3 linked regions of the Homo sapiens genome follow. The protein of the gene in region 3 interacts with the protein of the main gene of each other region in a biochemical or structural test. Each region holds a gene or a part of one and is shown on either strand. Other genes may lie near its edges.

The links. Proteins that work in one complex are often made in the same cells at the same time.
Region 1: of the proteins of EIF2A (region 3) and EIF2AK2, one has a biochemical effect on the other in vitro, tested with the Homo sapiens proteins (4 studies listed by BioGRID, with this or other methods).
Region 2: of the proteins of EIF2A (region 3) and MARK2, one has a biochemical effect on the other in vitro, tested with the Homo sapiens proteins (one study listed by BioGRID).

The regions. Positions count from the first base shown.
Region 1 is NC_000002.12:37,153,966-37,161,977, reverse strand, and holds the start of EIF2AK2 (interferon-induced, double-stranded RNA-activated protein kinase), read left to right. Parts: upstream 1-4,997; 5' UTR 4,998-5,070; intron 5,071-8,012.
Region 2 is NC_000011.10:63,842,102-63,849,124, reverse strand, and holds part of MARK2 (serine/threonine-protein kinase MARK2), read right to left. Parts: intron 1-7,023. UniProt on the Homo sapiens protein: Serine/threonine-protein kinase. Involved in cell polarity and microtubule dynamics regulation. Phosphorylates CRTC2/TORC2, DCX, HDAC7, KIF13B, MAP2, MAP4 and RAB11FIP2. Phosphorylates the microtubule-associated protein MAPT/TAU.
Region 3 is NC_000003.12:150,577,780-150,584,802, forward strand, and holds part of EIF2A (eukaryotic translation initiation factor 2A), read left to right. Parts: intron 1-3,838; coding exon 3,839-3,967; intron 3,968-5,420; coding exon 5,421-5,486; intron 5,487-6,066; coding exon 6,067-6,132; 3' UTR 6,133-7,023. UniProt on the Homo sapiens protein: Functions in the early steps of protein synthesis of a small number of specific mRNAs. Acts by directing the binding of methionyl-tRNAi to 40S ribosomal subunits.

The DNA.
Region 1 (8,012 bases), on a different chromosome or scaffold from region 3:
GATAGTAAATATTTTCAATTTTACTGGTCATGCAGTTTCTGTCACAGTGACTCAACACAACTCATCTTAGTGTCAAAGCAGCCATAGACAATATATAGATGAATGAATGTGGTTGTGCACTAATAAAGCATTATTTACAAAAACAGGCAGCAGCCCAGTTTTGGCCCAGATCTATTCTAGACAATGAAATAATTAGCGAATAAAACAGTCAAAAATCCCTGTCCATGTGACTTTACATGTCAGAGGAAGGAGAAAACAAAGACAATAAATCAATAAGTTGTATTGTATAATAGAAGGCTGTAAGTGCCATGGAGGGGAAATAGAATAGAATGAGGGGGATAGGGAGTGACAACAGGGTGACAGTAGTGATTGGAACTTAAATAGTGTAGTCAGGGGGCTTCGTGAGCAAGTGACGTTTCAACAAGATCTGTGAGTTTTGCAGATATCTGAAGGATGAGGTTCCAGGCAAAAGGAAGAGCAAGTACAGAGGCACTGAGACAGTAGTATACCTGGCATTCTTGAAAAACCACAAGGAGGACAATGTAACTAGAGGAGAATGAAAGAGGGGCAGAGAAACAAGAGACGAGGTTAAAGTGGCAACCAGGGTGCAGGAAATATAGTGTCTTGTAAGCCCTTGATGATTCTGGGCTTGACTTTTTTCTTTCTTTCTTTCTTTCTTTCTTTCTTTCTTTCTTTCTTTCTTTCTTTCTTTCTTTCTTTCTTTTCTTTCTCTTTCTTTCTTTTTTTTTTTTTTTTTTTTTGAGACAGTCTCTCTCTGTCGCCCAGGCTGGAGTGCAGTGGCATGATCTCAGCTCACTGCAACCTATGCCTCCCAGGTTCAAGCAATTCTCCTGCCTCAGCCTCTGGAGTAGCTGGAACTATAGGCATGCACCACCATGCCCAGCTAATTTTTGTATTTTCAGTAGAGACAAGGTTTTGCCATGTTGGCTAGGCTGGTCTCGAACTCCTGGCGTCCAGTGATCCACCCACCTCGGCCTCCCAAAGTGGTGGAATTACAGCCGTGAGCCACCACGCCCGGCCTTCTTTCTGTATTCTGCATGATGAAAGGGACAAGGCAGATCTCTGGGGCCTCTTTTATAAGAGCACCAGTTCCACCACCCAAAGGCCACACCTCCTAATACCATCACATTGGTGATTCGCTTTTAACTTATGAGTTTTAGGGAGGACACAAACATTCAGACCATAGCGATGATTTTATAATAATGTGCATGTGGGGACTATTGACAAGAAGAGTTTATAAGTAAGCAAGACAAATTACTAAAGCAGAAACATCTGAGGAAAAGAGCCACAAGAGATATGGTACAACATAAATATGGACCACTCTACAATTTCCAAAAGCAGGAATAACAGTTATTATTTTTCCTCTGCTAGTAAAAAGAGAATTAAGAATAATTGATACATACGATTCTTCTATCTGTGTCTGATTCGTTGCTTTAGCATTACACATTTTGATCTAAAAGTCACTGTATTAAAAGAGATAGACTTATGGGATTGACTATAGGTCAATAACCATACTGATATTCACAAAGAGTTACGTAGTAAGGCCTGAGAAGCCCATGTGGATAAACTCACACATATCCTCCATTCCTGCTGTCACAGCCTCTTTATTTGTTGAAACAAGCACAGGGATAGCTGGGGAAAAGGCTAACAGAAGTCTTCTTGCTCAACTGCTTCTCAAAAGCCTCTTTAGAAGTGGTTGCCTTTGGTGAACATTCAAAAGGGAGCCCAATATGCACACTCTGCCCATTCGAAGTGGTTCAAGCACATCATTTCCCTAGACCTCATCATCAGCCCTCTGATATCATTCCTTCCAACTCTCTGAACATCAGCTGCATTGCCAGCCACTGGCTCTGTATAAGCCACTGAAGGAGGGGACTTTGGATCTTCTTGGGGTCCATGGTTAGGAAGTAAGTGACTAGGTTGCATAAGATGAATCTACTCCAATATTCCTGACTCCCTAAGTATTTTTGATTTCTTCATCTGCATTACTTGGCATTACATTTACATTTAGTGTGAGCTGCCACTGAGCTGATATTATAGTAAACCAACTGGGCAAACTGGCTTAGCGCTCCCACTGCTAGAGGCAGTACATCAACTTTCTTTCTTTTTTTTTTTTTTTTCTTGCTCTGTTGCCAGGCTGGAGTGCAGTGGCACGATCTTGGCTCATTGCAACCCCGACTCCCTGGTTCAAGCGATTCTCCTGCCTCAGCCTCCCAAGTAGCTGGGATTACAGGCACATGCCACCACGCCCAGCTAATTTTTGTATTTTTAGTAGAGACGTGGTTTCACCATGTTGGCCAGGATGGTCTCAATCTCCTGACCTCATGATCCGCCCACCTCGGCCTCCCAAAGTGCTGGGATTACAAGCATGAGCCACCGCGCTCAGCCTCAACTTTCAGCTTTCTTCACGTCATCTTTAGACTCATTGCCATGTCTATTTCTTGCTTTCTGTTGCTCTTTTGTTGTGTAAAGCATCACCCCTCCATCAGATCTTGTCCATATCCTCTTGGGGCGCATTAGCATCTGATTCTAGTTCTAGGAGTGAAGGCACAGGTAGAGATAGGATATTTGGAGAATCAGCACCTCCTTGCAGGGTGACTGTTTCATGCTTTTTAATGTAGGCTGTACCAGCCTTATCAGACAATGGTGGGAAGCCTGTGGAGACACAGCAGAATTTAGGAGGGCAGTGGCACTTGGATTCATTCAAATCCACCCAAATTCCCAGGGCTTCTTTCTTTCACAATCAATGCCCTCAGTGTTCACAGAAGAGACCTGATGAGGCTGCAAATGAAAATTTTTGTTGTAATTCTAGGCTGGGCGCGGTGGATCACGCCTGTAATCTCAGTACTTTGGAAGGCCGAGGTGGGGGAATCACTTGAGGTTAGGAGTTCCAAACCAGGCTGGCCAATATGGTGAAACCCCTTCTCTACTAAAAATACAAAAATTAGCTAGGTGCGGTGGCACACGCCTGTAATCCCAGTTACTTGGCAGGCTGAGGCAGGGAAATTGCTTGAGCCCGGGAGCCAGAGGTTGTAGTGAGCCAAGATTGTGCCACTGCACTCCAGCCTCGGCAACACAGCAAGACTCTGTCTCAAAACAATTATATTGTAATTCTGGTGCCTGCAGCACCAAGCTTTGCAGCTGAGAGCCCAGACAGTAGGGAATTGGGCTCCTCAGGGAGTCCAATATGCTCACACTTTACCCATTCCAAGAGGTTCACCCATATCATATCATTCCCCTGGACCTCATCACCAACCCTCTGATATCATTCCTTCCAAATCTTTCCCCAGCAGAGAAGGCAGATTTTTACATCACCCCTGAGGCTCCCTGAAATAGGAGGGTTTTCTGGTACAGTCATAAAAGCGTGTGTCCTCTGATCATGCTTAAGCTTGCCATTTTTCATTCTTTAAGCTCTCTTGGGCAGTTCAGGGGCTCAAAAAGTCAGAAAAACTTGTCCTTGCTACTGCCATTGCTGCTGCCACAGCCATCCCACACCCACAAAGCTGACAAATGGACACACAGCACTGTCAGAGTTTTCTTGTCACCTGGAAATGCCACAAAAAGATGGCTCTGCCTCATGTCTACCTTCTAAACCTCCCGCCAGTGCTTTACATATAGGGGACTTAAGCTATGCCCAGGACCAGAGCTACAAGGAAAGTGTAGATTTTAGTTGTTGATACCCTGCAATGTGGGGTTGTTGGGGGATGGAGAAGGGAGGCTGGAGAGGATGCCTGCCTAGGTGTAATTTTTTTTTTTTTTTTTTGAATTGGAGTCCCACTCTGTCACCCAGGCTGGAGTGTAGTGGCATGATCTCAGCTCACTACAATCTCTGCCTCCCAGGTTCAAGCAATTCTCCCTGCCTCAGCCTCTGGAGTAGCTGGGATTACAGGTGCCTGCCACCACGCCCAGCTAATTTTTGTGTTTTTTAGTAGAGACGGGGTTTTGCCATGTTGGCCAGGCTGGTCCTGAACTCCTGACCTCAGGTGATCCGCCCGTCTCAGCCTCCCAAATTTCTGGGATTACAGGCATGAGCCACCGCGCCGGCCTAGGCATAATATTTAATGTATATTTGAGGTCTGTCTTTGGACCACCTTCCTCTCTTATCCCAGCTAAGATACTGAGAGTACAAACTCCTGGTTATAATTCTAACTCCGCTGCTTACTACCTGTGTTAATCCAAATTCTCTGTGCCTCAATACTCATTAGTCACTGTGCCAATGAACTCTGGAACTCTGTGTGACTCTGGGAGTGTGTCGCAGTCCATCAGGTGAGTAGAATTTCTATAAATCGAGGACTACTGGTGTTGGACTATGGTAGGAAGCTCCCTGGGGTACTGTAGGAAGCAGGTGTCTCTATTTAGCAGCAGGACTGGCCCACAGGTGCTTTTACAGCGGCTGGCAAGTGTCTGCTCATGAATGAATGGATGGGTGGGAGCGGAGTGAAGGAGATTACGCCCCCAGGCCTCTGATCCCCAGGCTTGTAAAGGTGAGGGGGCCGCGGTGTGGCAAGAGGGAAAGAGTGCTTTGGTGTTTACAGGCCCCGACTTGAACTGAATCCTGGCTTTGCCACTTACGAGCGGCAGGACCCCTGGGTGAGTTCATTTACTCAGTTTCCTCTATTGTAGAATGGAGCTGGTAAGATCCATCTTCCCAACCCCACCCCAAATATTTGTGTTGAGAGTAAGTGGAACCCTTGATTCGAGAACCTAGTGCGGCCAGCGGACTAGGCCAGCGGAGAACCCTAGGAGCCCCGGGGGCGGGGGATGGGGGTGCAGGGTCCTGGCCGTGCAGGGGCAGCACGTGGGTGCCAAGCCCGCCTGCCGGTGCCAAGCCCGCCCGCCGGTGCCAAGCCCGCCCGCCAGTGCCTCTCGCGCGCACTCTGGATCCAGCGCCAATTTACCCCAATCCCGTAGCAGACGAGGGCTTGTGCGAGAGGGGGCCGGGCGGCTGCAGGGAAGGCGGAGTCCAAGGGGAAAACGAAACTGAGAACCAGCTCTCCCGAAGCCGCGGGTCTCCGGCCGGCGGCGGCGGCGGCGGCGGCGGCGGCGCAGGTGAGCAGGGCAGGGGGCAGCCGAGGGAGCGCGGGGAGCGGGGGCCGGGGGGCCACGTACGAGGGGCTGCAGGCCCAGCCGGGGCGGGACTCGCCAATCCTGCGTCCCCAGCTCAGGACGCGGACGCTGATCCGAAGCCCCTGGCCCCGGCTGGGTCAGCACTGGGAGAGCAGGCCCAGGTCCGCAGCCCGGGTGTGGGGCCCTCCCCAAATCCAGGGAAAGGATCGTGGAGCGGGGTGGGGACTGAAAGCCATTTCCTTCCCGTGAAGAATTTTTATCAGTGCAAGTAACAAATATTTCCCAGGCAGCAGTTGTGGGGCGGGGTCTAGTGGAAGACGAATAGGCCTAGTGGCTTGACACATGGAAAATACGGAGGCCTGAAATACTCATAGACTGGCTGAACAATCTTTGGCTAAAAATCTCTTCCGTGGAGAGTTGCAGTAGTTTCCCAATTGCCTGGCCGCAGTTCCTGTTCCCACTCCGTATCCTCACCCCTGAACCTCCACCCCCTACCTCTTCTCCACACCTCAGCATCTGGAATGTTCCTTTAAGTAAGAACCAGACTCTCCCCTGCTCCGACCTTCCCCGTAGCTTTCCTGTCTCATCAGAATCCTATAAACATTTATTAAGGCTCACAGGCAAGGCCCCTCGCACCCCCTACTCCGGCCACGCTGGCTTCCTTGCTGTTCCTGGTGCACAGCCAAGCATCCTCCAGCCTCTAGGCCTTTGCACTGCTTGTTTCTTCTTTCTGGAAAGCTTCTTCCCCAGATAACTGCATGGGGAAATCCCTCCCTTATCCTGCACTGCTTCCCATGCCAGCTTATCAGAGCAGCCTTCCTCAAACAACCTGCCTATACAAGAAACCCCGCTCTGCCCTTGCTGTTCCCCCTTCCACTACTTCGGTTGTCAACATAGTAGTTATCACCTGGTGACATTTTCTTTCTTTTCTTTTCTTTTTTTTTTTTTTTGAGACAGATTCTCACTCTGTCGCCAGGCTGGAATGCAGTGGCACGATCTGGGCTCACTGCAACCTCTGCCTCTCAGGTTCAAGCGATTTTCCTTCCTCAGCCTCCCAGGTAGCTGGGACTACAGGTGCCCGCCAGCACAGCCAACTAATTTTTTTATTTTTAGTAGAGACAGGGTTTCACCGTGTTGGCCAGGCTGTATGTAGTCTGCTGGAAAGGAAGTGGAGGCATAGCCAAAATAATTTCTGGGCATTAGTAAGATGGACAAATATTATTTTTTAGTGATTATGATGGAGGTTTCTTCCAGATGAGTGAATAAGATGTAGAATCTGCTCCCCAAAGAGCTCACTAATTAGTTTAAAAAGCAGTCAGGGCTGTGTTGAAGGTTGGGCAAGGTGGAGTGGCAAGCCCATACTAGCTGACCCTCCAGCATCAAAGAAGGCTGTGTTGATCCTGATAGATGAGTGGATATTGGTGGGTACAGAGAGAATGCAGATATTGCACTATAAATGTAGAGAAAAGCAGGTGACAAGTCCTGGATGGGGTATCTGGAGATATTTTGGTACTCACTCATTCATTATTGAGCCTGGTCCCTTACCTGTAGTAATTCATGCTCTATTTTGGAAAATAGTTAAATAAGCAATTTTAATAAAGGGGATGAGCACTGTGGAAGAGCCTGTGAAGGAGTGTCTGGGATTTTGAGCTGAAATCTGTAGGAAGTAGAAATTGACCAGGCCAAGACAGCAGAAGGAATAGAGTCAAGGGCATTTTAGGAGGGAGCAGGTTGGACAGAGGCAGTTGGGAGTTCAGGAGAGAGTCCATGGTGGAAGCGTGCTTTTGAGAACCATCATTGTGTCCGTGGAATTTAAAGCCACAAACCTGGAGGTGATCACCAGGGGAGTGAGTCCAAGTAGAAAAGAGCAAGTCTAAGGACCGGGCCCAGTGATGCTAGAATATCTAGAAAAGAGGAAGTTAGAACCATAGAAAAGGTTAAAAAAAAAAAAATAGAAGAAAAGAAGTTGAAGATGAACCAGGAAAGGAGACAGAAAAGGAGTAGCTTGTCAGAACAGAAGAAAACCAGGCCCAGGTGCCATGGCTCATGCCTGTAATCGCAGCACTTTGGGAGGCCAAGGTGGGTGGATCACCTGAGGTCAGGAGTTTGAGACCAGCCTGGCCAACATGGGGAAACCCCGTCTCTACTAAAAATATAAAAAATTAGCCGGGCGTGGTGGTGGGCGCCTGTAATCCCAGCTACTCGGAATGCTGAGGCAGGAGAATCGCTTGAACCCGGGAGGCAGAGGTTGCAGCGAGCCGAGATGCCACCATCACACTCCAGCCTGGGCAACAAGAGCGAAACTCTGTCTCAAAAGAAGAAAACTAGGAGAGTGGGTGTCTTAAAAGTCCAAGCTAAGACAGGGAGAGGAGGGCGAAGAGGATGCGCAACCCCATCAAATGCTGGTTGTAAGTCAAGTAGAGAAGGACTAAGAACTGACTACTGGATTTAGTGATAGGGAAGCCATTGGTAACCTCGACAAAAACAATTTCAGTGGCTTGTGGAGACTGCATGATTGAATTGATGTTTTTTTGTTTGTTTGTTTTGTTTTTGTTTTTTTTTTTGAGACGGAGTTTCGCTCTTGTTGCCCAGGCTGGAGTGCAATGGCACGATCTCAGCTCACCGCAACCTCCACCTCCTGGGTTCAAGCGATTCTCCTTCCTCAGCATCCCGAGTAGCTGGGATTACAGGCATGTGCCACCACCCCGGCTAATTTTGTATTTTTAGTAGAGATGGGGTTTCTCCATGTTGGTCAGGCTGGTCTTGAAGTCCCGACCTCAGGTGATCTGCCCGCCTTGGCCTCCCAAAGTGCTGGGATTACAGGTGTGAGCCACCGCGCCTGGCCACTGAATTGATGTTTTAAAAAGATCATGATGTGGCTGTATTAAAAAAGAAAACAGATAATAACAAGTGATGGTGAGGAT
Region 2 (7,023 bases), on a different chromosome or scaffold from region 3:
AAGGTGGGAGAATCACTTGAGCCTAGGAGCTATTTGAGGCCGCAGTGGGCTATGATCACACCACTGCATACTAGCCTGGGTGACAGGGTGAGACCCTGTCTCTTAAAAACACCAACAAGGTCAGGCGCGGTGGCTCACGCCTGCAATCTCAGCACTTTGGGAAGCCGAGGCGGGCGGATCACGAGGTCAGGAGATCGAGACCATCCTGGCCAACATGGTGAAATCCCATCTCTACTAAAAATACAAAAATTAGCCAGGTGTTACAGCCGGGCACGGTGGCTCACGCCTGTAATCCCAGCACTTTGGGAGGCCGAGGTGGGTGGATCATGAGGTCAGGAGATTGAGACCATCCTGGCTAACATGGTGAAACCTCATCTCTACTTTAAAAAAAAAAAAAGTACAAAAAATTAGCTGGGCATGGTGGTGGGCGCCTGAAGTCCCAGCTACTCGGGAGGCTGAGGCAGGAGAATGGTGTGAACCCGGGAGGCAGAGCTTGCAGTGAGCTGAGATCGCGCCACTGCACTCCAGCCTGGGCGACAGAGCGAGACCCTGTCTCAAAAAAAAAAAAAAAAAAATTAGCCGGGTGTGCTGGCACATGCCTGTAGTACCAGCTACTTGGGAGGCTAAGGCAGAATTGCTTGAACCTGGGAAGCGGAGGTTGCAGTGAGCTGAGATTGTGCCACTGTACTCCAGCCTGGGCAACAGAGCAAGACTCCGTCTCAAAAAAACAAAAAGACACAACAAAAAGAAGGTGGAGAAAAAAGGCAGCCGCACATGGGATATCAGAAACCAAAGCAAAACTCATACTGAAATGGTAATCAGAAGCAATGAGTAGCTCACTGTAGTATCAACAGGGGCAACCAGCCCCCAAGGACAAGGTCTAGGCTGGAGCTCTGTCAGCAGGTAGTTACACTCACTAATTACTAAACGTTCATATTTTGGCATTTCCTGCTTAGCTGGGAGACTGGGAAATAATCCTACCTGGCTGGCCTTGCTCCCTGAGAAAGACTTCCTAGTGCTATTGCAGGAAGTGTCAGCACACATGGTGACCGGAAGCTCCCACCTTTCCTACAGGTTGTTTCCTATGGCTGAAGTCCCTGTAAGCTGCCAAAGAGCAAAAACTATTTTTTCTCTCTTTTCTTTCCCAGCAGGCCTGGACAGACAGTCCCATTGCGTGGACGAAAAAAGGCCTGGGATGTCACTGAATTTAGCAGCCAGATCATAGCAGTAAGGAGTCCTGATCCCCTCCCAGACCCATAAATGAGGAGCCAAAGGCAGACCCAGTCCCTTCCTCCTGGCTAGGCTGAGGGTCTTTCACCAAGTTGTGAATTGGGAAGGGAGTCCAAAAAAGGAGTTAATGTCTTAGAGCTTTCAGTGAAAGGTGTATAAAGCAAAGCTGCCTTCAGGTTCAGCATAGGGTGGAGAGAAAGCCTCCTCCCTGGAGTGAAGGACCAGCTCAGAGACCCATTCAGTGTTTGGGGAGAAGGGGGTTGTTGACAGATAGTTGTCTTCCAAACTTTCGCCTCAACGAACACAGCCCCAAAGGAGGCAGACCTTTGTATTGCCAACTTCCCAAAGAGCACACAAGAAAATAGGCCAAGGCTGCCCAAAACCAGCTTGACTGGTTCTACAGAGAAGCCCCTGGTCTGCTCCGCCTTCCTCATGTTAAAAAGAAAAAGGCCAAAAAGGTGGCTGGGAGCCAGTCACTGAACACAGCCCTCCTCTCTTTCTGCCAGGCACCAGTTGTCCCTCAGGATCACCTAGCCACCAGTATCAGTGTCCATCTCCCCTCCTCTCCTACCAAATCTTCTGTTCATTTAGTTTTATAAGCCTAAAATTAATGATTTGGTGTAAAAAGGAAATGAATTTACTTTTGCCCTTTTTGCCATTTTCTAATGAGAAATGTAAGGAATAACTGCAAGTAGGGGGAAATAAGTGCCAACCCAAAGACAGACATCTGCGGAAAGAACCACCACAGGGACTGACAAACCTTATTTATCTTGAGATGGGGTCTCACTCTGTTGCCCAGGCTGGAATGCAGTGGCATGATCACAGCTCACTGCAGCCTCAACTTCCCAGGCTCAAGTGATCCTCACATCTCAGCCTTCTGAGTAGGTGGGATACACGCATGTGCTACCACACCCAGGTAACTTTTTAAAAATTTTTTTGGGCTGGGCGCGGTGGCTCCCGCCTGTAATCCCAGCACTTTGGGAGGCCGAGGTGGGTGGATCACGAGGTCAGAAGATCGAGACCATCCTGGCTAACAAGGTGAAACCCCGTCTCTACTGAAAATACAAAAAAATTAGCCGGGTGTGGTGGCGGGCACCTGTAGTCCCAGCTACTCGGGAGGCTGAGGCAGGAGAATGGCGTGAATCCGGGAGGCGGACCTTGCAGTGAGCCGAGATCGTGCCACTGCACTCCAGCCTGGGCGACAGGGCAAGACAACGTCTCAAAAAAAAAAAAAAAATTTTTTTTGGCCAGGCGGGGTGACTCATGCCTATAATCCTAGCACTTTGGGAGGCTGAGGCAGATCACGAGGTCATGAGTTCAAGGCCAGCCTGACCAACATGGTGAAACCCCATCTCTACTAAAAATACAAAAATTAGCGGGGTACAGTGGCGTACACCTGTAATCTCAGCTATTCAAGAGGCTGAGACAGGAGAATCACTTGAATCCGGGAGGCGGAGGTTGCAGTGAGCTGAGATCGCACCACTGCACTCCAGCCTGGGCAACAGAGCAAGACTCCGTCTCAAAAAAAAAATTTTTTTTTTGTAGAAATGAGGTCTCACTATGTTGCTCAGGCTGGTCTTGAACTCCTGGGCTCAAGTGATCCTCCTGCCGTGGCCTCCCGAAGTGCTGGGATTACAGATATGAGCCACCACACCTAGCTTGAGAAACTTGAAACATTCCAGACAAAAACAGATATGAAGATAAAGGGATCTAGCCTATTTATACTTATCAGAGGAGGAGATGTCTAGAGGGCAAGAGGAGGAACTGGGATGCCTCCTCCTCTGAGACACAACTGGAAATCAAGAGGCCAGATTCTCTCTGGGTGCTGTTTAGAATCAGCTGTACTATCTCAGTCTAAAAGATAAGCAATGATGCCGGGCGCGGTGGCTCACTCCTGTAATCCCAGTACTTTGAGAGGCCACGGCAGGCGGATCACTTGAGTCCAGGAGTTCAAGACCAGCCTGGCCAACATGGTGAAACCCTATCTCTACTAAAAATACAAAAAGTGGCCAGGCATGGAGGTGCGCACCTGTAATCCTGGTTATTTGGAAGACTGAGGCATGAGAATCGCTTGAACCCAGTAGGTGGAGGTTGCAGTGAGCTGAGATCCTGCCACTGCACTCCAGCCTGGGTGACCAGAGCAAGACTGTCTCAAAAAAAAAGACGAGCAATGACCTTCAATGGCCTATAACAAAAAGGAAGGGGGCGGGTGGCAGTAACATTCTGCTCAGGAGTTAGCACTTTCAGGGTTAACCTGGGGATAGCCTGGCTCTCCAGCAGTGGGAAGAGGGTGACTTCCTCCCCCACAGGTTTGTAAAGGCTTACTCTTCCCTTTGCAGAGACAGAAGGGAGAAAATGCATAGACAACACTTCAGTGACTCACTCATGTTTGATGAAAGCTGGGAGGAGGCCTGGAGAATCCAAGCTACAAGCACAAAACGTACAAATACTGGAATCTCCCATCAAGAGAAGGAAATTTAGCCACCTATCTGGTTTGTCATTTTGCTGAACTTCCACTGAAGGAGGAAGGGCCAGCTTTAAACTCCACCCACCCTTTCCACATCCTTCTCAATTTTTGCTTTGATGGGAAAGTGGGGAAACTGGCGGCCCCACCATGGCTAAAAGAGAATCAAATCCTTTCTATACTTCCTCTCAAAGCAGAGGCCTAGTAGCTCCAGTCCACAGCTTAACCAAGCAGAGGGAATAGGGGCTTGTCCTGGTTACTGTAGGAAAGCCTCATCAGGCAGTCTCAGGGAAGGAAGATGACCACCCTCCTCACCCTTTCCATCTGCTGAGGTTACTTCATTCCAATCCATTAATGGGCTTCAAAGTGCTGCTGGGGGGAGTCCATTTAGCAGAGAAGCTATCACGGGGCCAAAGGTGGCGCCCACCCCCTACCCCATTTGTCGATAATGGGCCACAAAGTCTGAGGCTTGGCTGCACTCTAGACATAAAATATTCATTCAAGTCGACATAATACATAAGTAGGAACCTCATGGAAGCTCCTGGGAGAAGAGAAATGCCAGCCAGGTGGCTAAGTGCTCAATGGGAAAGAGTTCATGAAGGCCTGGGTTAGTCCTGATCAAATGCCCACTGAGAATTGGGTTGTTCTGTCCAAAGGGGAAACAATCTAGTCTGAGAAGTTCTGACTCCCAAAAGCTCGAACCCTGCAAACCTCTTAGGCAAGCAAAGTCTCAATCTTTTCCTACCTCATAGGCACCAACTCTGCTTAGGACATTTATGCTGAGAAAAATCTCCAGCCCAAACTTTGGTTGGTCTGAAAGATTAAGTTATCCTTGTGCAAACTTTATTTTAATCTGCAGCAGGCCGAGTTTCAACAACTGTCTTATATCCATCTGTTTAGCTACTTTCCGAAGTCCATAAATTGGAGAAAAGTAATTTTTTTTTTCTGAGATAGTGTCTTGCTCTGTCACCCAGGCTGAAGTGCAGTGGCACAAACACAGCTCAATGCAGTCTCGACCTCCCCAGCTCAAGCCATCCTCCTGCCTCAGCCTTCTGTGTAGCTGCAACCACAGGCATGTGCCACCATGCCCAGCTAAATTTAAAAAAATTTTTTTGTAGAGATGGAGTCTCACTTTATTGATCAGGCTGGTCTTGAACTCCTGGCCTCAAGCAATCCTCCTGCCTTGGCTTCCCAAAGTGCTAGGACTACAGGCATGAGCCATGGTGCCTGACCAGAGAGAAATTATTCTAATTTACTAGGTACAGTTACTTTTCAGATTCAAAGGTTACGAACTCCAAGGACTCCCAAAGCCCTTGCTCTAACAACACTTCCTTCCTGATCTCTAGGGCCAAGCCGAAAGTGACACTATTTGGTCTGACATTCACCCACATTCCTGACCAGAAGGCAGCACCACCAAGGACCCCCTGGCCAGAATCAAAGGACAGAGTGAGAATTAGCACCAGGGCACACTGCTGCACAGCTCAGAGTGTGGACTGAGATGCTAGCTAGCCGATCCAATCTACCTAAGTTACACCAAAAGCAAAAAAAAAATATTTATCCAGCAGATCACCTGAGGTCAGGAGATCGAGACCAGCTTGGCCAATATGGCAAAACCCCGTCTCTACTAAAAATACAAAAATTAGCCAGCATGGTGGTGGGCGCCTGTAGTCCCAGCTACTCCCAGGAGGCTGAGGCAGGAGAATCGCTTGACCCGGGAGGCGGAGGTTGCAGTGAGCCGAGATCGCATCGCTACACTCCAGCCTGGGCGACAGAGCAAGACTCTGTGTCAAAAAAAAAAAGAGTTTTATATATATATATATTTTTATCCAGAATCAACAATGGGGGTCCAGTGAGAGTGTTTGGAGTAGTTCAGCTGTTCCTTATAGGATCTTGTAACTTTGTTTTCTTCACCAGTACTTCTAAACTCCCCTTCCTAGAACTGAGAGAATAAACAATGCCGCTCACTGCCTAGAAGCCTGACAGCAGCCCCCTCCCTTCCCACTGCAGCAGAAGTGGGGCAAGTTTTCTCTCAATCCCTCTCTCATAGTTTCTGAGGCCCAGAGGTGGGGCAGGTCCCAGATGGAGTAGCCTCTCCCCCAGGTGTTATGGAAAACTCTAGCAGGTGAACTCTGGAAGCTGGACCTTTCTCCAGGCTTGCCTGTGACTGCTGCTGCTGGCTGGAAGACAAACAGTCATCTTGCTGATTGCTTTCACAACTGCCAAGCTTCAGGCCAGCAGAGTCATTTGGAAAAGAAGTGAACAAAAAGCTCAGCTCACAAACTAAGAATCCCCCAAGCTACGAGCCCCAGATTAGAACCCTCCTTCTGCAAAAGCAGGAAGTCTATGGCTGTGAAAAAGCACATCTGGAATCAGGTGTCACAAAAACCATCTTAAAGACAGGGCTTAACTTTTTTTTTTTTTTAATCTCCTACTTTCACTGTTATAAGCGAAGTGGACAGCACACAGGCAATCTCCCTGTAACGCAAGGTTTATTTTTATGCTTCAACATTTTCAGTGTCTGTGTGTTTCAGAGTGATTAAAGGGCTCCTGGAAACAGGTTCTCATCAGCCACATTTTTAAAGAAGAGGGAGAGGAAGAGCAAGAAAAGAGACTGGAGACAACCAGTGGTGTTTGTTTACCTATTTTCTGGTAAAACCAGTTTTAAATTTAAATAAGGTGACAGAGGACCTTTAGGGGAGGAAATCAGCCCAACTAAATCCCCTTTTTAAAAAAAATAACATTAAGACTATAGTAATGACCAAGCTTCCATGACTACTTTATCTAAAATCACAACAGGACCAAGAAGAGGTTTCTTTCACTTGGTGGCATGATCTATTCTCGGAGGCCAGTGTTTGATATACCTGGCCTTGTGACCTGAGGAGCTGCTGCTTGTCTTTTTTCCCGTTTTAAAGAATACAGGAATCAGGCCCGGCGCAGTGGCTCACACCTGTAATCCCAGCACTTTGGGAGGCCGGATCACGAGGACAGGAGACTGAGACCATCCTGGACAACATGGTGAAACGCTGTCTCTACTAAAATCCAAAAAATTAGCCGGGCGTGGCGGTGTGTGCCTGTAGTCCCAGCTACTCAGGAGGCTGAGGCAGGGGAATCGCTTGAACCCAGGAGGCGGAGATTGCAGTGAGCCAAGATTGTGCCACTGCACTCCAGCCTGGCGACAGAACGAGACTCTATCTCAAAAAAAAAAAAAAAAAAGAATACAGGAATCTGTCTGGAATAGGTGCATCCAAGGTTTTCCAAAGTCCCTGCTTTTACTGGAATGAGACTTAATATTAAATCGATACAGTGACTGGCTACCCTGAGAACAACAG
Region 3 (7,023 bases):
TTGAATTTTGACAGGTCTAGGCTGGTTATGTGTTTTGGGAGGCAGTTACTATTTTAAGGTATAGAATTGTATTATGCAACCATATTCTGCTAAAATCTGGACTTTTAGAAAAACCATTCTGTTCATTTGTAGTTAATATGTTTCATCCCCAGAAGTATCTTAATTGGTCAGCTTTAGGTTATTCCAAGTAAAAATGATCTATTCCATGCATTTGATATTAGATTTGTATAAAAGCAAGTCTTGTCCCTTCATCAGTACAAGTAGGGACCTCTACTGGCCCTGGATATTACAACTCATTAGTAGTATCCTTAACAACTTGATAACTAAGATGCCCTTTGAGTTTTAGGGCCTCTCTGAAACGCACTCAACTTAGAATTCTATTTTTATAAGCAAAGTTTCTTCCACTTTATCAAAAGATATTTTTAATATGACCATTGGTGATACTGGACTAAGATTCCTTTATACTTATTATATAAATAATTACTTACATAATTACATATGATTATAATTATTAATAATTATAACCATTAATTAATATACTAAATTATAATTGTATTAATTATATAAATAATATACAAATTCTATTAGTTTATACATTTTATAATATAAATTATGTGATAATTTCACATTTAATTAATATAATGAAATTATTATTATAAATAATAGTTATTTGTAACTCTGTTATAAATGTGTAACTCTTTATAGCTCATGGTAATAGTGTGATCAGCTGGGCTGATCAGTTATAAATTTACAACTCTCAGTTATATGTTTATACCTGTCAGTTTTTTTTAAAAGAGCCAATACAGTCATCAAGCACCTACACACGTTTTTTACTAAAGATGATACCAAAGGTGATACCAGTAATCCCTCATTGTGGAATTGCTTTTTGAGTTGTTTTTCCAGTAATAGCAAAGGTTTTCAACTTGCAAGATAAACTATTCAGTATGTATTTTGGGGACGACTGGCTGAAGTTAGTAAAAGTTGTGGCTGTGTGATGGAACAAAGCTAAATGGCCCTTGACAGAATCTCACCTTATCCAGACCTTCTTAGTCCTGACTCTGAAGTAAATAGTCAAAGATAGAGCAGTCAGATATATGTAATCTAACTAGTATTTTTGTAAACTGGTGATAATTTTATAAGTTTGTTGACTTTACCAAAAAAGAGTTGAAACATAAGAATTTAATCTTACCATATATACGTCCTTTCTAGAGAATGGCTAGAATTTAAGTATAATAATGCAGACATTTCAACTTGTTCTTGGTTAGTTTGTGGGGAAAAATAAATTTTATATATCACTTAATTTTAATGGTTTTTCACATGATAAGATTAACCTTTCTTCCTAGAGAGCTATATTCTTAGCTCATTACAAACAACTAAAATTTTATATTTTTAAAATCTGATATCAAAAGTGAATTTTGATAGGCAGAATATCCCCTCTTCTTTTATTTACTCTTCTACTTTAATTTTATATTGTGAAAAATATAAAACTGCCTATTACCAGAACTTACAGGCTCCTTAAGAGGAGAAACTTAATATTTTCTTTCGAATTCTCAAAGTGCCCAGTAATTTGTTTTCATGTAGAAGGTAAATAATTGTTTATTAAATAGTACCAAAAAGTGAAACCAACATGACTTTAAAAAGAAAAATTGGCTGGATGCAGTGGCTCACACCTGTAATCCCAGCACTTTGGGAGGCCGAGGTGGGTGGATCACCTGAGGTCTGGAGTTCGAGATCAGCCTGTCTAACATGGTGAAACCCCATCTCTACTAAAAATACAAAATTAGCTGGGTGTGGTAGCAGGTGCCTGTAACTGTAATCCCATCTACTTGGGAGGCTGAGGCAGGAAAATCGCTTGAACCCGGGAGGTGGAGGTTGCAATGAGCTGGAATCGTGCCACTGCACTCCAGCCTAGACTCTGTCTCCAAAAAAAAAAAAAAAGAGAAAAATTGACTTCAATTCTGTATTTTCTAAAAACTCTTAGGCAGACTTTTAGAGTTGAATATCTAGAAGTGATACCCTATTCTATGTTCCCTGAGGATCTGAGGATGCTTTAAAAGTTCAGAGTATCCTACCCAGAACTCTGAGTAAAAGGTTATGGAGACCTGGAGCATTATATATATATTCCACTGGAAATTCTATAAGAAGTAGAAACCCTACGTTGGAGCCAATAAATACTTACATAATTTTTTCCCCTCTTACCAAAATATATATCTTGTCATAATTATAAAGGAAGAGTCATTCCTTTATTTTTTATTTATTTAGCCTGTGCAACGAAGCAAGTATTATGCTAGAGGCTCAGTTCTAATGGGGAATGGTAGAATATGGTGTTACCGTAGGGAAAAATACTGGGCATTATGAGAGCCTGGGAAAGGTGCGACTATCCAGTCTTAAGGTGGGGAGATTTTCCAGAAGACTTAAAGGATAAGTAGGGTTCAGCCAGGTGACTTGTGGGGGAAGGTGTTCTAGGCACAAGGAACAATATATAGTAGTCTCCCTTTATCCTGGAGGGGCAGAGCTATGCCTGAAACCACAGATAGTACCGAACCCTATAGAGACTGTGATACACAGTAAGAGATTAACAGTAACTCATAAGAAAATAGAGCAATTATAATAATATACTGTAATAAAAGATATGTGAATATGGTCTCTCAAAATATCTAATGGTGTTGTATTCACCCTTTTTGCGACAATGTGAGATGGTACAATGCTTGTGTGGTAAGTTGAATGACCACGGCTATAACTTGCAGTTCAAGGCGCAACTGCAAAACTAGCACTAATCTCTTTTTTCTTCTTCCCAAGTTCATGGATAGGTTTAATCTTACTGTAAATCATAGCAAATCAGCATACAATATTTTTTATTCCTTATTAAGAACTTTCACCTTTTCACTTAAAGGGAGCACTTTACGGCTTCTCTTTGGCATATCCGAATTGCCAGCATCACTACTCTGCACTTTGGGACCATTATTAAGTAAAATAAGGGTTACTTAAACACAACTACTGTTGATACTGTGACAGTCGATCTGATAACCAACACAGCTACTAGTGAAAAATAGGTGGGGAGCGAATACACTGTGGATACACTGGATAAAAGAATGATTCTCGTTCTAGGCAGGATGCTGAGAGATTTCATCACACAGCTTAAAACTTATGAATTGTTTATTTCTGGGATTTTCCATGTAATATTTTTGGGCTGCAGTTGACGCTTGGTTACTGAAACCATGGTTAAGGGAGACTGCTGTACACAAAGGCCAGGGGCAAGAGTATACAGCACCTTAGCGGAAATAAAAGTGATTCAGAATCAGTGAGGAGGGACAAGAAAAGTTATCAGAGGTCTGATCATATTGGAAGCATTATGGCATCCCTTTAAGGGGAAAAAAGTTTTGTGGTACTTTGTTGCAGAGCTGAATTGATCTGATTATAAATTAATATCTGTAGGATTCTTATTCTTGTAGCATAATCCATTACAGGTACTTGATCATACATATTCTTTATAGTTTTGGAGAGAGCCTTGTAAGAGTGAAACTTTAAACACCTTAAATAGAAAAGCCCTCTCATATGTTCAAACCATCTATCTACTGGCACATCTCAGAATATGCAAAAGTTTGGAATGCTTGTTGGCTGGTACAGAAACTTCCTGGTTTACTCTGATAAGGTCATTTTATTTCTAACATGGGAGTATGTAGCATACTTCATGAGACCTTTAATTCAGATTCTTTATATAAAATGTAGATAAAATCACATATTTAGTTTCTGTATTTCATATGCCAAAGCTATGTTGATTTAAATACTGTAATGTTTTTGGCTTTTAAAATTGAATTTAAAAAAATATTTCCTGCAGGAAGCAAGAAGTGACAAGAGTCCAGATTTGGCACCTACTCCTGCCCCACAGAGCACACCACGAAACACTGTCTCTCAGTCAATTTCTGGGGACCCTGAGATAGACAAAAAAATCAAGAACCTAAAGAAGGTGAGAGACTTAAAAACAGATGTGCATATTGAAAGGTATACATGAAAATTATATAAGTAAGAGAGTACTTAGATGCCTAAAGACAGGTATCTAAGAAGTTGGTATCAGCAGTTCTCATTGTTGTTTTCTCACTATGAAGCACTGTTCACTTAGGAATGGTATTGATTTTAGTTCTATTCATAAATGTCTGAAGACTCTTAGTACTTTGATTTTTGGAGTAATAAAATTCAGTGTGCATCAGCATAGAAATATACTGAACACTTTTTTTTTTTGAGACGGAGTCTTGCCCTGTTGCCCAGGCCGGAGTACAGTGCCACAACCTTGGCTCACTGCAACCTCCGCCTCCCAGGTTCAAGCGATTCTCCTGCCTCAGCCTCCCGAGTAGCTGGGACTACAGGTGTGCGCCACCACGCCTGGCTAATTTTTATATTTTTAGTAGAGACAGGGTTTCACCATGTTGGCCAGGCTGGTCTCAAACTCCTGCCCTCAGGTAATCCACCCGCCTCGACCTCCCAAAATGCTGGGATTTGTGAGCCTCCTCGCCTGGCCACTGAACACTTTTTAATTTAATTTAATTTTTTTTTTTGAGACAGAGTCTTGCTCTGTCGACCAGGTTGGAATGCAGTGGCGCGATCTCGGCTCACTGCAAGCTCCGCCTCCCGGGTTCAGGCCATTCTCCTGCCTCAGCCTCCCGAGTAGCTGGGACTACAGGCGCCTGCCACCACACCTGGCTAATTTTTTGTATTTTTAGTAGAGACGGGGTTTCACCGTGTTAGCCAGGATGGTTTCAATCTCCTGACCTCATGATCTGCCTGTCTCAGCCTCCCAAAGTGCTGGGATTACAGGTGTGAGCCACTGCACCTGGTCACTCAATACTTTTATACTCAGTATTTCATTAGATACCTTGTGATAATTAGGGGCAGATATTTATCCTAGTTTTGAAGATGAAGAGACAGAGACAAAAAAGAAGTGTATTGATTTGTGATATTGCAGCCAGTGTGCTGGGGTGGCCCTGGGGATAAAAAAAGGTCTCTAGAGCCCTTCACAGCTGCATTATGAGGTTTCTCTTTCATTCACTTTTTATCGGGCAGGACTTTGGACCAACAATCTTTCAGAATGCTCTCATTGAGATTTCTCTCAAAGCCAGAAACATCACCCAGGTCCAATGGGGCATTGAAATGTGCCATTACTGATACATTTATATATACACATGCATACACGATAACATTAATTAAAAGCCTGAGAATAATATTTTGCCAAATCTCATGTTTTTAACATTTACAATTTTGCATTTAACTTTAAAAAACAATTTATCCTAGCATTTTAACAGACCATTGTTGATACAAATCTAAGATAATTAATCTCCTTACTTGAGTTTCACATTCTTAATAAGGAAATTTGCATTTGAAGTGACTTTTCTTCCATGCTCTTGACTCATATTTGATGTTTGCAGAAACTGAAAGCAATCGAACAACTGAAAGAACAAGCAGCAACTGGAAAACAGCTAGAAAAAAATCAGGTACTTTCTGCATTTTTCATTTAGGCTTGTGGTGACCACCAGCCTTCCCCCTTTTATTATAAACAAGTATTTAGTCAGGTAAAAGAGCACATGGAGTTTAAAAACTTATTTTGAAAACCATATGCCATATTCTTTTTAATGTTTTTACTTTTAAATAGCTTTACTCTTAAATAGAAGAGATATGGTATTGATCATGTGAATGAAAAAGTCAATATTCCTAAGAGGCATACTATGTTATTACTGCTGAAAATAATAGCAATTTGTTATATTAGACAAATATAAGATTCTCTCAAGTTGTACTGCCCTGTTTGCCTTTTCCCTCCTCCTGTCAACATGTTTAAGCCCGAATATAGAATTGAAAATTTTTGGGGCCCAAAGGGATGCAGTAAGACAGTGTCTGTTCTTTTCACCCTCGATTCATACCAGATAACAAATTAGAATTTGTTTCTAACCTGTATTTTAAAATCTGTGTTTACTAGTGAACATAATAAATTGTCAGAAATACCATTTTTTCTGTATTATTTTGGTTACATATCCAGTAATTATTTCATAATAACTTCATTGTTTCAAACTTTTCTAGTTGGAGAAAATTCAGAAAGAAACAGCCCTTCTCCAGGAGCTGGAAGATTTGGAATTGGGTATTTAAAGATTCACGGAAAGCAAGTTGATGACCAGAAATCAGTGCAAACACATCTTCTGTTAAACCCATTGGTATACACAGAATATTCCTGTGCCCACACTTAATGTCAATCTATAATTTTAACCATTTATCCAAGATTCTACTAAGTGTAAAATTATTTAATAATGTCTATTAAATTGATATTTATATCTTGCATCCTATATCATGTCAATATGTGATATAGAAAAGAGATACGTGAATTTTTTAGCTAAGCTTGACAGATTGAAAGACAAGTGTCATTTTTTTTTGTAGAGGGTGATATATACCATGTAAATGAACAAAGACATTTTAAATTTAATCACTGTTTTTATTATAAGTTCCTTAGTTCAGATATCCTTTATTAATTTATAAGATGTGTAAAACTACTTAATTCTCACAAGACTCTATGAAGTAATTCTTTTAATCTCTATTTTATAAATGAAAAAACTAAGGCCATAAATTTAAGAAATTTGTCAGTGTCTCAAAGCTAGGAAATGGCCATCTAATCCCAGAGCCTATGCTTTAGGTCACTATGATATATACTACTCCTGTATCCTCAAGTAATGTATCATTTAGTAACACTAAGCACCCTGCTTAGTTTTCATGGATACTGCCAAATTGCCCTATCTCAAGCTTTATACTTGCACCATTTAAAGTTTTCCACACTGTTGGCAATATCAGAAGTGATAAGGCTTTGAAATGTTCGCCACTTTGATAAAGAGGAAATGATTGTTTGTTACTGTTATATACATGTATTTTTATCAGAGATGGGTTATGTACTTTTCCACGTTTGATAGTTGGTTGTATTTCTTTAGTGAATTGATTTTTCTTTTCCTTTGCCCATTTTTCTGTTTGGATGTTTGACTTTCTTCTTAATTT